Regions from separate parts of the Homo sapiens genome. Here region 2 is linked to region 1. Evidence: fine-mapped expression QTL. Tissue or cell type: whole blood. Region 1 holds a variant in brackets; the other region holds the start of a gene. All regions are shown on one strand. Distances are from middle to middle.

Region 1 (8,183 bases):
GAGCTTTTTAAAGATGGTTACACAATATTTAAAGATGGTTAGAAAATATGGTTCAGAGAATGAGAAAGTGGTTAAATGTCATGATAGCACCACATGATTTTACAATAGCAAAGACAACAATAATAGTGACACTTCATTAGTACAAAATGTGAGCTGATCTATTAGAGGAACCATTCAAATTTAGCACCTCCTGTTTGATCAGGCTGCATAATTTTGTAAATCCCTTATTCAGTCACCCAATCTGCATACTAATCAGTTCCGACGTTATTTATATGATAACATGAAAGCCTTTAATTTTTTATATTCTCAGTTACTGTTTCTCTTGCTTAACTGCGAGCTCTTGAAGGTCAGTGACTGTTTTTTTATACTGCCAGTACCCAGCACGTCAACTGAGTACAAACTGGTCAGGAAACACTCGTTGAATAGATGAAGACATAAATGTTTGTTCAGTTGTAGGCTGTTGCCAACTTTGGAAGGTCGTCTGTTTCAAATGTTTGAGTGATTGGGCTAGAACTTGCAGTTCCTTCTCCCATTAAAAAAAACTCATGTAAACGATAAATTATACCACAATAACTTAATTTCATTTCCAATGATTACACTCCAATCAAGTAGTGGAATTATAGTAGTCGGTCAGAGGTCTGACCAGTTTCTGAAGAAAAAAAAAAAAAATCCCCATCCCAGACAGCAGACAGTCCTGCAGTCAAGCTTGAATGCTCCATTGATGTGGTTTCCACATGTTGTAAGTAATTTATTCTATTGTTGGACACCTGGCTCTGCTTGCCCTCCTCCCCCATCCTTTTTAATAAAATGATGGTGAGTCCATCTTTGTCTTTTAAAAAATTTTTTTTCTTTTAGAGACGGTGTCTTGTTCTTCTTCTTTTTTTTTTTTGGGGGGGGGAGGTGGGACAGGGTCTCGCTCTGTCACCCAGGCTGGAGTGCGGTGGCGCAATCTCAGCTTACTGTGGGTTCAAGTGATTCTCCTGCCTCAGCCTCCCAAGTACTTAGTATTACAGGCATGTGCTACCATGCCTGATCAATTTTTATATCTTTAGTAGAGACGGGGTTTCACCATGTTGGCATGCTGGTCTCAAACTCCTGACCTCAAGTTGTCCGCCCACCTTGGCCTCCCAAAGTTCTGGGGTTACAGGCGTGAGCCACCATATCCGGCCAGATGGGGCTTGTTCTGTTTGCCCAGGCTGGAGTGCCGTGGTGCAATCATAACTCACTGTAACCTCTAACTCCTGGCCTCTAAGGATCTTCCTGCCTGGGCCTCCCAAAGCACTGGGTTTACTGGTGTGAGCCACTGAGTCCAGCCTCCTCTTAACTTTAAAATCCTTAGTCTTGATCATCCCTTTTAGAGCACTGAAAACCAGGCCAGACTTCAGGTGGGGCTCCAGATACACCTACCCCTTCACCTGCAGGCCACTGAATCTGACTAGAAGCAGCTCTGAGCAGCCTTCTTTGGACCAGTAGTTCTCAAAGTGTGGCTCCTCAGCCTGTAGCATCAGTGTCACCTGGGAACTTGGTAAAAATGCAGATGAAACTCTTGGGTAGGACCCAGCAATCTGTGTTTAAGAAGCCCTCCAGGGATTGCAAGGCACTAAGTTTGAGAACCGCTGACAGGGCTTATTGGAACATGGTCCCAGGGCAGAGCGGTGTAAGTGATTCCCATGAGCAGTACACAGGATGGGTGATGTGTACTTCAGCGGCATACTTGGTCATCATGGTCAAGGGTCCCTGAAGCTCATGGAAGAGATGAATTGAAGCTTCAGGCATGGAGTCCAAGGTGCAGTGGTCAGATGTGGTGGGAGGCAGCTCTGGACCAGCACGGCCAAGCTAGCTTCAGGATGAACACTGCATGCACAAGGCTGCACGCAAGAACTTTGTCAGTATATTGTAGTACCTAATTGAAAAATTAAACTAGATTTAAAATCTGTTATGTTTTCATAAGAGATTTCACTGTGTCTGTTAATGAAATAAGGTGCTTTTACATTCTTGAAATAGAAATTGCCGTATTTCTGTTGGCTGTAAAATGCTTAATAAATTTAAAATGGTTGTAAAAAAGGTTAAAACAATTTTTACCTCTTAGTTTGAGTAAAACTTCTTGTTACTAATAACCAACAAGAACATCAAGAGATCATCATTAAACATCTTGATCTGGAATGGCATATAGTTCTTTCAAGCATATAGACAGTTATTTCAAAGACAATTATTTTCAAAGAAGTAAGCTCAACATTCTTGAAAAAATTGGAAAATATTTTATTTAAAAGTATTATGTCAATTCGATATTTAATATCTTCACTAATACTCTGATTTTTTCTCTTTCCCCTCCCCTCCCCTCCCCTTCTCCCCTCCCATCCCCCTCTCCCTTCCCCTCCCCCTCCTCCTTTTTTTTTTTCCCTGTCCCCCTGTGTCCCCCAGGCTGGAATGCAATGGCACAATCTTGGCTCACGGCAACCTCTGCCTCCTAGGGTCAAGTGATTCTCCTGCCTCAGCCTCCGTGAGCCACTGTGTCTGGCCTGATTTTATTTTCTCAATGGTCATTAGGTATTACTTTAAAAGAATACTTCTGGCCAGGCGTGGTGGCGCATACCTGTAATCCCAGCACTTTGAGATGCCAAGGCGGGCAGATCACCTGAGGTCAGGAGTTCGAGACTAGCCTGGCCAACATGGTGAAACCTGGTCTCTATTAAAAATACAAAAGTTAGCTGGGTGTGGTGGCACACGCCTGTAATCCCAGCTACTGGGGAGGCTGAGGCAGCAGAATGGCTTGAACCTGGGAGGCGGAGGCTGCAGTGAGCCGAGATCGTGCCACTGCACTCTTTTAGCCTGGGCAACAACAGTGAAACTCCATCTCAAAATAAATAAATAAATAAATAAAAATAATAATACTTTTTTTTCCATTTAAAATTTTCTCAGTTTCTCCTAGTGTGCAGTGCGCTCTCATTGTCAGGGGACCGCTGTGGGGAAAGGGGTCGGACAGCTCTGCACTGGGCAGTTCCCTGCTCCCTGGAAGGCTTTCCCATGTTTATATTTTTCTTCCCTTCTCTGTGTAAACAGCCCTGCTTCCTCCAATTGATCCTGAGTATTTGATACCATTTCCAGACACC[A/G]TTCTAGTGAAGGTGCTCTGGTTTCCATTGTCCCCGGGAAATGTGGCATCCAGAGCTGAGCAGAGTTACCCAGATGTCATGTGCCTGGTGCCCGAACAGAAGGAGTGTTGTACCTGTGGCTTAGAGTTGAAATGCAAAGTGAGTGACTTAAGAATTCACTAGATGGAAACCCCACTGAAGTGGTGCGTGTCTGTTTCACTGTTTTATCCTCGTTGACTTATGGGCTCAGTAACTATTTTTAAAATGATGGAATGATTAGATGAAAGAGGAGATGGAAAAAAACAGAGAAAGCAAAAGGAAATGAGCTTATGTAGTGCTTCCTGTCACTTTTGTCTTATGTTAGTCAATCCCAGTGAGCAACTGGATGTACTCAGAAGATCACTTAGTGGTCGGGCACGGTGGCTCACACGGGTAATCCCAGCACTTTGGGAGGCTGAGGCGGCTGGTCACTTGAGACCAGGAGTTTGAGACCAGCCTGGTCAGCATGGCAAAACCCCATCTCTATTAAAAATACAATATATATATACATGCTCAGTGTGGGTGGTGCGTGCCTATAATCTCAGCTACTCGGGTGGCTGAGGCAGGGGAATCACTTGAACCCAGGAGGCAGAGGTTGCAGTGAGCTGAGATTGTGCCACTGCACACTGCACTCCAGCTTGGGCAACAGAGTGAGACTCTGTCTCAAAAAAGCAAAGGAGATCACTTAGTGAGCATGGGATGAGAACAGGGAGGGTGAGAGGATTCTGGGGATAGCCACTACCATCTAGAATGGCCAGATATCATGGTCTTTACCCCTGGGAAATTCACCCAGGGGGTGGATTATAGTGTGGATATGCCAAGTCCTGCTAGTAGAATGAAAAATTGAATTATAGAACTTGTTGGATTTGTTTTTTAGGATAACTAAAATGTCTTCATGGACACTGTGTCTTTTAATGATTACATTTATATAACATGACACTCTGGTGTTTTGTACACTGTAAAAGGTGCATTCTTCTAACACAACACTCACATCTTATTGAAGTGATCCATTGCCACATTGTGGTGTGTAGATCTTATTCTTATCTCCATGCAAAATGCTTGGTATGTGGTATGCACTCAACATTGGTAAAGTTGTAGCTTAAACGATCTAGTACATAGTTTTAAACAAAGACAGTTTAGACATTAAAGCAGTATACGCCTTGTTTGACATGAGGTGTGGGAGCACCAAGCTTGACCCTCTTAGATTCAAATTACTCCTGAATTTAACCAATTCAACTCTGATGTATTTTAGCACAGCCATGCTTCAAGATGGTGGAACTTACCCTCCTGTCTTCCCAGACTGATTTCTGTTCCTGCCCTGGGTACTTCTTGTCTCCTCTGAATGGGTACGGGAGTGTGGACCTCAGGGAGGCCCCCTTGGTATGCTCCTCCGCTTTCATTCGGGGATCTCAGACCTAATTTCAGCTTTGCCCAATGTGAAAGCATTTCCAGAGCAAGGTGACTTCTTCAGGAATTTTCCATGTGGTATCTTTCAGAGTAATAGTGTGTTATCTCTGCCAGAAGCCAGAGGAGAAATTTTTACTCAGAGAAAGAGCCATTTTCCTATGGCTACCTTAAGACATAAAAGTATAGTAACATCCATCTCGTAACTGATCATGTTGTCTGTCTGTACTGTAGCATCCCATGGCTCACCTTTTATGAACTAACTGAATCCCTGGGCCTACTCTACTTTGTAGTCTTGTTCCCTCTGCTATTTGTGTCATATAAATTAATTAGCTCTTTAGCTTTTTACTTTTATCATGTAACACTGAACTAAGTTACTTAGCCATCTTAAGTCATTTTCTGGAACGTGGTGAGGCCTAAATAAATAAGTAACTAATAACTGCAGAATATAAACTATCAGGCCGGGTGCGGTGGCTCATGCCTGTAATCCCAGCACTTTGGGAGGCCAAGGCAGGCGGATCTTAACTTGAGGTTAAGAGTTCGCGACAGCCTGGCCAACATGGTGAAACCATCTCTACTAAAAATACAAAAATTAGCTAGGTGTGGTGGTACACATCTGTAATCCCAGCTACTCGGGAGGCTGAGGGAGGAGAATTGCTTGAACCTGAGAGGCGGAGGTTGCAGTGAGCTGAGATGGCGCCACTGCACTCCAGCCAGAGCCACAAGAGTGAAACTTTATCTCAAAAAAAAAAAAAGAGAATATAAACTAATACAGCAAAAGGCTCAATTATTTTAACAGAGAGCACTAATGGCTGGGTGGAAATTGCCACTTCAGGTTTCTTTCTTATGAAAGCTTGCAGAAATTCACTGATCCCTTAATTATGGTGAGACTTAAAGGTTGCAGTTAGTGGAATAGAATTCTTCAGCTGTGAAATAAAAATTTCCCCCTTAGAACCTTTCTTCTTTGATATGATGGGATGAGAGTACTTTTCCTTCAGTTTCACTCGGAAGAAAATTTCTTATACCAGGCCAAGAGCTTATGGGGGTCCAGAACAATGACTAACATCTTCTGCTATACCTCGAGCAATACGGGTGAAATGAGACATGAAAAGCTGAAGAGTTAGGTATGGATGAAGAAACTGACAGGCCACTACTGATTTTTACCTAAAAGTGATTAAACATTACAACATTCTGTTTTAAGTTCTTATGTATCTAGGTTGTAGATCTTAAATATTTGTTGAATTATTTTTGCTTCCTAGTGTAACTCTGCAATCCAAAAGTAAATCTTAAATAAAAACATGAAAATACACATCCCATGCAGTAAAATTGCAAACACAAATTAAAGGAAGGAAGCTGGGCATGGTAGCACATACCTGTAGTCCCAGCTATCCAGGAGGCTGAGGCAGGAGGATTGCTTGAGCCTGGGAGGTCAAGGCTGCAGTGGACTATGACTGCACTCCAACCTAGGCCTGGGTGACAGAGCAAGACCCTGTCTCTTAAAAAAAAAAAAAAAAAAAAAAAAAAAGAGGAAGGAAAAAAGAGTCAGGCTTATTGGCAAAGTGATCCAATTTAAACAAACCAGGCCTAGGACAGTTGTTCACACTTCTAATCCCATCATTTTGGGAGGCTGAGGTGGGAGGTTTGCTTGAGGCCAGGAGTTTGAGACCAGCCTGGCCAACATAGCAAGACTCCATCTCTAAAAAAAATAAATTAGGCATGGTGGTGTATACCCACAGCCCCAGCTGCTTGGGAGCCTCAGGCGGGAGGATCACTTGAGTTTAGGAGGTCAAGGCTGTAGCGAGCTATGGTCACACCACGGTACTCCAGCCTGGGCGACAGAGCAAGATCCCATCTCTTTAAAAAAAAACAAAAACAAACAAACAAACAAAAAAATCAATAGATTCCCAGTAGTACTCCCTTGTACAGGGAGCCTGTGCAAGGCTGTAGAAAGTAACATTCTCAAGGGGATGTCCTGGCAGATAGTAAATGCTAAGTAAATAGATTTTGATGGATTGTGGTGGCATACAATGAATTTCAACAGGAATTTATTGGAAGGCCATTTACAGTCTAGTTGAGGAAAACCAGTAAGTGAGTAGAAGAGTCGCTACCCATAGGTACATTTAATGAATAAGTGATGTGGCTAGTCATTGGTGTGCCCATACTCAGGGATATCATTTAAGGCCCAAGTGGGCAGAGAAGGTTAAATAGGAGAGCGTATTGGGATTGGAGCTAAAGGATGAGTAGGATTTGGATGGATAGAAAGGAGAAGCACTCTAGGTAGCATAAGCAGAAGTGAGACACCAGGCTCAGTCTGCACTCAGGGAGCAGAGGACATGGTAACTGTTCACTAAGAGGGTTTATGATCAGGCTATTTGGTGAAGGGGGCTTCTTCTTCTGAAACGTGGACTTCATCCTGTCAGTATTGTGTTTCCATGAAAGATTTTGTGGATTTCGTTTTGTTTTAGTCAGAGTCTCGCTCTGTCACCCAGGCTGGAGTGCAGTGGCGCCATCTCAGCTTGCTGCAGCCTTCGCCTCCTGGGTTCAAGCGATTCTCCTGCCTTGGCCTCCCAAGTAGCTGGGATTATAGGCGCATGCCACCATGCCTGGCTAATATTTGTATTTTTAGTGGAGATGAGGTTTCACCCTGTTGGCCAGGCTGGTCTCAAACTCCTGACCTCAAGCGATCCACCCGCCTTGGCCTCCCAGAGTGTTAGGATTACAGGCTTGAGCCACTGCACCCTGCCTCCAGGAAAGATTTTGGAAGAGAGAAGTGACACAGAAGCAGTGAGTTTCTCAAACAATACACATCACTGGGGAATTTTGGCAAATTGCAGATTTTGATTCAGGAGGTCTGGGATGGGACCATGACTGGATGTATAGCAGGTTCCCAGGTGATGCTGATGCAGATGGTCCACAAATCACATTTTGAATAGCAGAGACACAGAGTACTATTTCCAGAAGATGGAGTTGACAATAGTGATTAGAGGGGCATGACACCACTTATAGCCCTTTTAGAGTAAAAAAGGACCCTAAAGATTATCAAGTGGTCCATTTGCCGTTTGTTGCCATTGGAAAAACCAAACCAAACAAAACAGGTTCTAAAGGTTACACTACAGCAGGGAGCAGAACTGGACTCCAGTCTCCCAGCTGACAGTACTTTCCATGCAGCCGTATGCTGGTAGCCCAGGTAGCTGTGAGGCGAAGGACTACAAGTGGAATGGATTCACTGGATGGATGCCAGAAACCTTGGGAAGAGAAAAGCAGTAGCTTTGGGCAGCTGATTTAGTGGGGAGTGAGAAGACTCCTAAGACAATAGATTTTTTTTTTTTTTGAGACGGAGTCACTCTGTCGCCCAGGCTGGGGTGCAGTGGCACGATCTCGGCTCACTGCAACCTCCTCCTCCCGGGTTCAAGCCATTCTCCTGCCTTAGCCTCCCTAGTGGCTGGGACTACAGATGCCGGCCTCCACGCCCGGCTAATTATTGTATTTTTAGAAGAGATAGGGTTTCACCATGTTGGCCAGGCTGGTCTCAAACTCATGACCTCAGATGATCCACCCACCTCAACCTCCCAAAGTGCTGGATTATAGGTATAAGCCATCACGCCTGGCTGACAATGTTGAATTTTAAGTCCTGGTAAAATCGACACATGT
Region 2 (8,183 bases), 85 kb before region 1:
CTGTAATCCCAGCACTTTGGGAGGCCGAGGCAGGTGGATCACCTGAGGTCAGGAGTTTGAGGCCAGCCTGGCCAACATGGTGAAACCCCATTTCTACTAAAAATCCAAAAATTAGCCGGGCGTGGTGGCAGGCTCCTGTAGTCCCAGCTACTTGGGAGGATGAGGCAGGAGAATTGCTTGAACCCAGGAGGGGGAGATTGCAGTGAGCCGAAATCGGGCCACTGCACTCCAGCCTGGGCAATGAGCGAGACTCTGTCTTTAAAAAAAAAAAAAAAAAAAAGAGAGAGAGAGATAAAAAGCCCCTGAAGGAAATTTTAGAAGAAAGGAGTGACAAGTGACATTAACTAAGAGAGAAAAGAGTCGTCAATCTTGGGAGTGGTAATCAGATCATGTTGAGTTAACACATGGAAATTGATAAGTAGAAAGTAGCTGGGACTACAGGCCACATGCTGCCATGCCCAGCTAATTTTTGTATTTCTAGTAGAGACGAGGTTTCACCATGTTGGCCAGGATGGTCTCAAACTGCTGACCTCAGATGATCCTTCTGCCTCGGCCTCCCAAAGTGCTGGGATTACAGGAATGAGTAACCATGCCTGGCCTCAAATTTCACATTCTATGTATAGGCATCAACATTTCTCCCAAAACATTATCTCATTTCCCTATCCATTGATTAAGAAGCACCAGGAAAAACAGCTTAAATATCTAGAATAGGTTGATTTCTATAAGTGCCAAAATGCTGGCTAAGGTTTAATTATATGTGTGTGTATATATATAGATATATAATTATAAATATAGATATCTATATAAATATCTATATAGATGTATTTTTTGAGATGGAGTCTCGCTCTGTCGTCCAGGCTGAGTGCAGTGGCTCACTGCAACCTCCACTTCCCAGGTTTAAGCGATTCTCCTGTCTCAGCCTCCCAAGTAGCTGGGACTACAGGTGTGTGCCACCATGCCTGGCTAAGTTTTATATTTTTAGTAGAGATGGGGTTTTGTCATGTTGGCCAGGCTGGTCTCGAACTCCTGGCCTCAAGTGATGTGCCTGCCTCAGTCTCCCAAAGTGCTGAGATTACAGGCATGAGCCACCATGCCCGGCCCGTTTAATTACACTGATGCGGGTATGTGTTGTCACTAAACTGTACGTGTCTTTAGATGACCCTGAAACATACTATAACCTGTGAAGAAGCAGGTGGCCATTAGTATGGCCTTGCCTCATCTTGGATGGGGAAACTAGCACCAGGTCAAATGCTTTGCCCCAGGTCATCTGATGAGTCAAGAAGAAAATGATTCTGGATTGGTGCTGGAGAGTCAGGCTTCATCCTAACCCCAGCCCCAACTGCCCGGCTTGCCTGGCTCCTTGCTGAGTTATTTGCTGGAAAGTGTTTATGTAGAGAACAGGCTGCCCCTTGGAAGCAGCACAGTCCTCTGCATCTTCTTAAATTTAAGAAAGTACCAGGCCAGGCACGGTGGCTCATGCCTGTAATCCCAGCACTTTGGGAGGCTGAGGCGGGTGGATCATGAGGTCAGGAGTTCGAGACCAGCCTGACCAATATGGTGAAACCCCGTCTCTACTAAAAATACAAAAATTAGCCAGGCGTGGTGGTGCATGCCTGTAATCCCAGCTACTCAGGAGGCTGATGCAGGAGAATCGCTTGAACCTGGGAGGCAGAGGTTGCAGTGAACCAAGATGGTGCCACTGCACTCCAGCCTGGGCGACAGGGTGACAGAGCAAGACTCTGTCTCAAAAAAAAAAAAAAAAGTATCACGTGGTGAATAAATTCAAATTCTTAAATATACCAATACAGTCAACTGTAAAGGCTATTTATCTTTTCCTATCATTTACTTATATTTATCTATTTATAGAAATGACAATTAAAAAAACCTCATCAGCCTTAACTGAATTTATTTTTATTCAAAGTATCACAGAGCACGAGGGAGCCTTGAAAACCCATCTGGCCTAACTCCGGCATCAGCCTAGGAAAGCACAAGACCTGGCTGTACTGACTCATAGTTCAGTGCTCTTTCTACTTCAACACAATGCCTCAATGCTATTAAGGAGAAATTTAATAATTCTTTTGGTTTCCTTTCACAAACATTATCGTCAGAGACTGTGCGCAGTGGCTCATGCCTATAATCCCAGCACTTGAGGAGACCAAGGAGGGAGGATCCCTTGAGTCCAGGAGTTTGAGACCACCTTGGGCAACAGCAAGAGATCATGTCTCTATAAAAAATTTAAAAAATTAGTCTGGTGCAGCGGTGTGCCTGTAGTCCCTGCTACTCAGGTGGTTGAGGCAGGAGGATTGCTTGAGCCCAGGAGTTCAAGGCCGCAGTGAGCTACGATTGCAGCACTGCACTGCCGGGGTGAGAGAGCAGGACCTTGTCTCTAAAAAAATTTTTCAGCATACTTTTTTTTTCTTTGGAGACAGAGAGTCTTCCTCTGTCACCCAGGCTGGAGTGCAGCAGCAGGACCTCACTGTAACCTTCGCCTCCTGGGTTCAAGCTATTCTCCTGCCTCAGCCTCCTGAGTAGCTGGGATTACAGGCATGTTCCAACACTCTTGCTATGTTTTGTTTTTTTTTTTTGTTTTTTTTTTTTTTGTATTTTTAGTAGAGACAGGGTTTTGCTGTGTTGACCAGGCTGTTCTCAAAATCCTGGCCTCAAGTGATTCGCCCGCCTCAGCCTCCCAAAGTGCTGGGATTACAGGCGCCAGCCCCGCACCCGCCAAAAACACACAAAAATTATCAGGGATTGTGTTTATAAATTTAGTTACTTTTGAAAATGTTTTTACATTTTGAACTTTCCTGTAAGGACTATTCACCCATTGCATTGATTGGTGCTCACAGCACTTAATACTTGAACAAGGGGAATTCAAGGACATGCTCTTATCCCCTTTCAAGTGGACTCAGAAGGAAAACAAAACAAAACAAAACAAAACAAACAAACAAACAAAAAAAACCCCACAATCAACAAGAAACAGGAGAGGCCTCAAAACAAGCAGGGCTCTCTCCCTGGGGCATCTCACTTTTTTTTTTCCTTTTAAACCACAAGGCCCTAACAGAGGAGCAAACTCCATGTGGTTTCTTAACTGTTTCAAAAGTGATCAATCACCAAATCGAATGTGACGTGCATTGTCACCTTCCAAGGAAAACTCTGAGTAGTCTTGAAAGATAGAATCACAAAAGGGAAAAATCACCTCTCCAGGGCTAGTTCCCTTATAAAATAAATCTGTCCTGGGGCTTCCCCTTGGAAAAACACACACAGGGCCCCAAGTGTGTGTAGGCTGACTGGCTACACAATCATTTGAATTTAGTTTCGAAAATAGCCCTTCCCTGTGTCCCTAATGTAAAGGAATAATTAAAACCCAAAGCGCATTTCCCTTAATTAGCCGAAAGCCCTAGCAATGCATGGCATTGTGGGCATTCAGGAGCCAAAATGCCCCCACTCATAAAAAATGATCCAAACAATGGCTCGTGCCCAAGCTTTCACACTTGTTTTGCAGAGAAGTCTTGGCTGGCAGAGGCAGGATTTGTAATTCCTTGGGTCGCTTGACTTCACGAGGGGCGAGGTATGCATTGTAGCGACACGGACTACTTGTGAAGCCTTTGGGCGGGAGTCGCTTAAAGATTAACTTTCTCGGGTTTCCGTTACCAAAAGCGTTTCCGTGAATAGCGTGATTGGAAACTTGTGCGGGCCGGAGACCGCGGCGCGGCTGCTCTTTCAACAGGCGATTTGTTCTCCTGTCCGAGGCTCATTTCCATGCAAAGAGCCTGACATCAGAGCACCTTTTGTTGCTAAACGCTTTCTTTAGCCTCGAGGGAGAGAGTCATGTGGAGCTGGAAGAGCTCATTTTGAAGAGAGGGGTCCCGGGGAGCTCCCTCCAAGATCTAGAGGCTCCGCGGCCACCCCTGCCGGGTCCTGCCAAGACTTGCTAGAAGGAACGAGTCGCGTGCCTTAGTTAGTTGGTTCCCGTCACAGGAAGAAACGCCTTTGCAGTGGGTTTAATTGCTTCTGGGCCGAGCGAATTCCCCGCCGTACAACTCAGTGGTGCGGACTTTGCCTCCTGCTACCCTGTTGCTGCGCCGAGCGGGGTGGGAAAGTTTCTGGAGTTGTCAGTCGCGCAGCCCGTGGCCACCTAGACCCGAGGTGCGGGCGCCTGCGAAGGGCCCCCGCGGGGTGGCCGGGGCCGCCGGGGCATGCAGCGCGGGGGCGCGGCTCGGTGACGCCGCGGGCGGGGACCCGGCATCCGGGCAGGCTGCGCGCGGGTGCGGGGCGAGGGCGCCGCGGGGACTGGGACGCACGGCCCGCGCGCGGGACACGGCCATGGAGGACGCGGGAGCAGCTGGCCCGGGGCCGGAGCCTGAGCCCGAGCCCGAGCCGGAGCCCGAGCCCGCGCCGGAGCCGGAACCGGAGCCCAAGCCGGGTGCTGGCACATCCGAGGCGTTCTCCCGACTCTGGACCGACGTGATGGGTATCCTGGTAAGTTACCTGGGGAGGGGGCGGCGCAGGAAGTACAGTTCGCAGCAGCCCCTCTGAAACCGGGGGCTCCCTTCTCGCCCACCCACTGGGCAACCCACTCCGCAGAGGCGTCCTTCTCTGGCTCTAGTTCTTAGGGGGCTAAATACACACAGTATAGGATTTCAAACCCTAATTAAAAAATAACCAGCCACAGGTCCCGTCAAAAGGTGTTTTTTAAACAATCGGGTATGATATTCAACAGTTTAATCTGGGACACCTGCTGACATGTTGGTGTGGAAAAGGCGAGAAAGAGGCCTTCAAAAAGTAGATGTAAATAAATATTTGGTTGGTGCTGGATTAGGGAAAAGGCTGATGTTACTGATGTTTATCTCTTCACCATTTGTTGTGTGACCACAAGAGGGAAAACAAACATTTCCTTACTCAGAACTGCCAAAATGTTTGCCTACTTTTTTTTGCAGTTTTTCAATTTGTGGAGTTACAGGATATTTGTTTTATATGTTTGGGGCTAAAACAATAGGACTTATTTTGCTAAATCTGTGCTGTCATGTATTTTGAAATGTCCAGTGACTAAAAGCGCCCCTGGATTTGGCATAGTCTCTGGGAAGCAGTTCTTCTGTATGGAGGGTGAAGTTTTAACCTGCTCAGGGTTGAATACCTTGGGGAAGTAATAGATTTGCTTTGGTGGAGCTGTAGTTAGGCAGGTAGACTGGAATCAGATGGGCGAGGTTTATTACAGTCAGACATCTTAATCCATACATAAAAGACAACTTTAGTTTAAAGACTTGGAATGGCCAGATGTGCAGATTATCAGAAAAGTCTCTAGATTTGCTTTGAGATCTTATATTTTTTGAGTGGGAGGAGATGGAGTGAAAGTTCTTCTTTGGGAATGATAAACCGTGTACAGTTTTTAGCACAGTGATTAAACTCTTGGGCTTCAAAGTAAGTTATACTAGGTCAAATGCCAGCTCTCCAATTGACTGTTTACATGATCTTGGCCAAGTCATTCAACCTCTCTGATCCTCAGTTTCATCACCTGAAAATTGAAGAAAAGAAGACTTGCTTCTTGGGGTTTCTGAGATTTAGCTGGGTTGATGTGTGTATCAAGTACTCAGCAGACTGTATAGCATATAGTAGAGGCTCAATAAGTGTAGCTGTCTTTCAGGTTTTATTTGTTTCCTGCAAAGTCTCCTGTCTCTTCCTTCTGGACATCCTAAAAGCCCAGTTACTCCATTTTCAGGTGACCATTGGTATTTATGATTCTTACTATACAGAGAACCAGCGAGCGTTGGTTAAAGATTTCTATCTGCTCTTGTCACTCTCCAGTATTGAAAAATGTATATAAATATGCATGCAATGTATATTTACATACTATATATAGCACATGTATATAATATACCTAAATCTAATATATATTTTAGATTTAAAAGGTTTTGTTTTTGCATTTTCTGAAGTATACAGATGAATATGATCCTTCACTGAAGTTCCAGAAAACCTAATGGACATTTTAAAGTTGTGATAAACTTTTTCTTTTCTTTTTTTTTTTTTTTTTTGAGACGAAGTCTTGCTCCGTCGCCCAGGCTGGGGTGCAGTGGCACGAGCTCAGCTCACTGCAACCTCCGCCTCCTGAGTTCAAGCAATTTTCCTGCCTCAGCCTCCTGAGTAGCTGGGATTACAGGCGCGCAACACCACACCCGGCTGATTTTTGTATTTTTAGTAGAGACGGGGTTTCACCATGTTAGCCAGGCTGGTCTCGAACTCCTGACCTTGTGATCTGCCCACCTCGGCCTCCCAAAGTGCTGGGATTACAGGCGTGAGCCACCGCGCCCGATAGACTGTTTTTAAGTTATCCTGTTATTTCTTGTCTAGATCCAGTTCTAAGTTTTCAGTCACTGAGGAAATTGGTTTGATAATATCCCATTGTATCCCTTACTCTAGGGCGTTGGGCTGGGGGCGGGGAGGATTGGGGGCCTGTTTAAATGAAACTTGGGCTGAGGGTTCTTTTGGGGAAGAGGGTTGGCCAGTGGCATTTTCTGCAGATTTGCTTTCCCTTCCCTGACAGATTCCAGCACTGTTGGGTCAGTTGTAGTGGAGTGTTCTTTGGCTGAGTTAAAAGATGGGGTGGGGCTTCAGAAGCTCAAACCTGCTATTGAAAGGGCAGATGCAGGAGCAAAGAAAATATGTACTTCAGCTAATCATTCAGGATCAGGCTGGGAAGAACGTAAAGCCTGTCCCAGACAGGTTGTGTTTGCTCATGTTTTCCTCTTGTTTATCTGGGGTAAACAGGCATGGAGATTGTTCCTTAGTAAAATTCAGAGGAAGACATGGCTTACTGCTCCTTTGTAGATGTCTTGCAGGGAGACACCAGGCTAAAAGGGAGGGAAAGCTGTCATCCAAGTGTTTATACAAACTGAGTCTTCGGGGAAATACATCAAGACACAAAATTAACAGTTGACTTTATTCTCACTGAAACAAGAGACACCATTTCCTTCCTTTTTTATTTAAAATATAAGATTTTGCAATCATCTATCAATCTAGACAGGTGAAGTGACTTGGCCAATGGCACATACCATGTTAGTGACAATGTTAGACTTGTCCCTGGTCGCTGGCCCCTCCAGTAGGGATCCTGATGTCATGACGCTCCATAGTTAACTCTCAGATGAATTCAGTAGAAATGTAGTTCAGTACATTTAGAAATCCTGTGTGTTTTAGGTAAAATGTGACTTACAAGATTCTTTTTCCGTACTGAACTTGAAGAGGACAGTAGAGGTAGTTGGGAAATTACACATCTGAACATTATCCTTAACAGATTTCAGACACAGTTCTACCTTACTTTTTCAGATTATTCTAATTGTGGAAATCAAACCACACAGCTTATCAATACTGTATGTGGAACTTTGAAATGACAAAACTCACAGCTTAGTAAGTGAAAACATTTTTAGGTGAATGAGCAATATTGAGCAGTTGTCCCCCAGGGGATTTTGTTGGTTATAACCCAGTGAAAGTATTGCCCCAGAGTCATGGATCTCAGTAAATACAGGATGGTTGTTTGAGTTCATTAGGACACATTTTGCATTTAGATTAATTCAGTCCATGCACAGTTAAGCACCAAATAGTTGCTTTCAGATAATTGTTAACAAAGTGCTCATTTAGAAAAGAAATAATAGTATAATTTACGGCATGAAAATGTTTGAGCAGTACTAGAATAAATAAATGCTAATAAGTGAATATATAAATGGATATAGAATTAAGAGAAAACAAGCTTGCAAAAAAAAAAAAAAATTAACTAGATTGTGAGTGCCTGGAGGGCAGGGTCAGTGTCTTACTCATTTTTCTATCTCCAGTGCTCCTGACTTAACTGGGTGCTGAGAACATGGCTTTGTTGAAAGAAAAAGGGGAAAAGTATGTATTTCTTAAATGCAGGAGTCACATCAAAGCATTGTTCTGTCAAGACACATGTGCCTGCTGTAATGTAATGGGTTACATTTATAAAGATGTGAATACATTCTGCTCTGGCTGAAACTGCATTTTGGGCAGTTTCATCGTGCAAATTAAAATCCCAGTGCTTCCACTGGAAACTAATGGTAAACTGCAACATGTTTATAAGCCCTGAGCTATTAAACCTTGGCGTTCTTGTGAAATGTGCCATTCTGTTCACTAACACCACGACATGTGGTAGGCCAGGGTTTTCAAAGCATGTCACTTCT

The links. PIP is the estimated chance that this variant, and not a neighbour inherited with it, causes the effect.
Region 2: SASH1 starts here. The variant in region 1 is fine-mapped to the expression of SASH1 in whole blood (INTERVAL, PIP above 0.99).

What each region holds. Positions count from the first base shown.
Region 1 is chr6:148,423,356-148,431,538 of GRCh38, forward strand. All of the region lies in intron 2 of SASH1 (SAM and SH3 domain containing 1), which reads left to right. Among named protein-coding and RNA genes, the nearest start is that of SASH1, 85 kb to the left of the region's middle. The variant A/G (reference allele first, on the strand shown) is at 3,111.
Region 2 is chr6:148,338,745-148,346,927 of GRCh38, forward strand. SASH1 (SAM and SH3 domain containing 1) reads left to right here and starts at 4,094. Exons shown (of 20, transcript NM_015278.5): 1 at 4,094-4,479. The coding sequence starts at 4,324. RefSeq lists enhancers at 2,741-3,320, 8,169-8,183.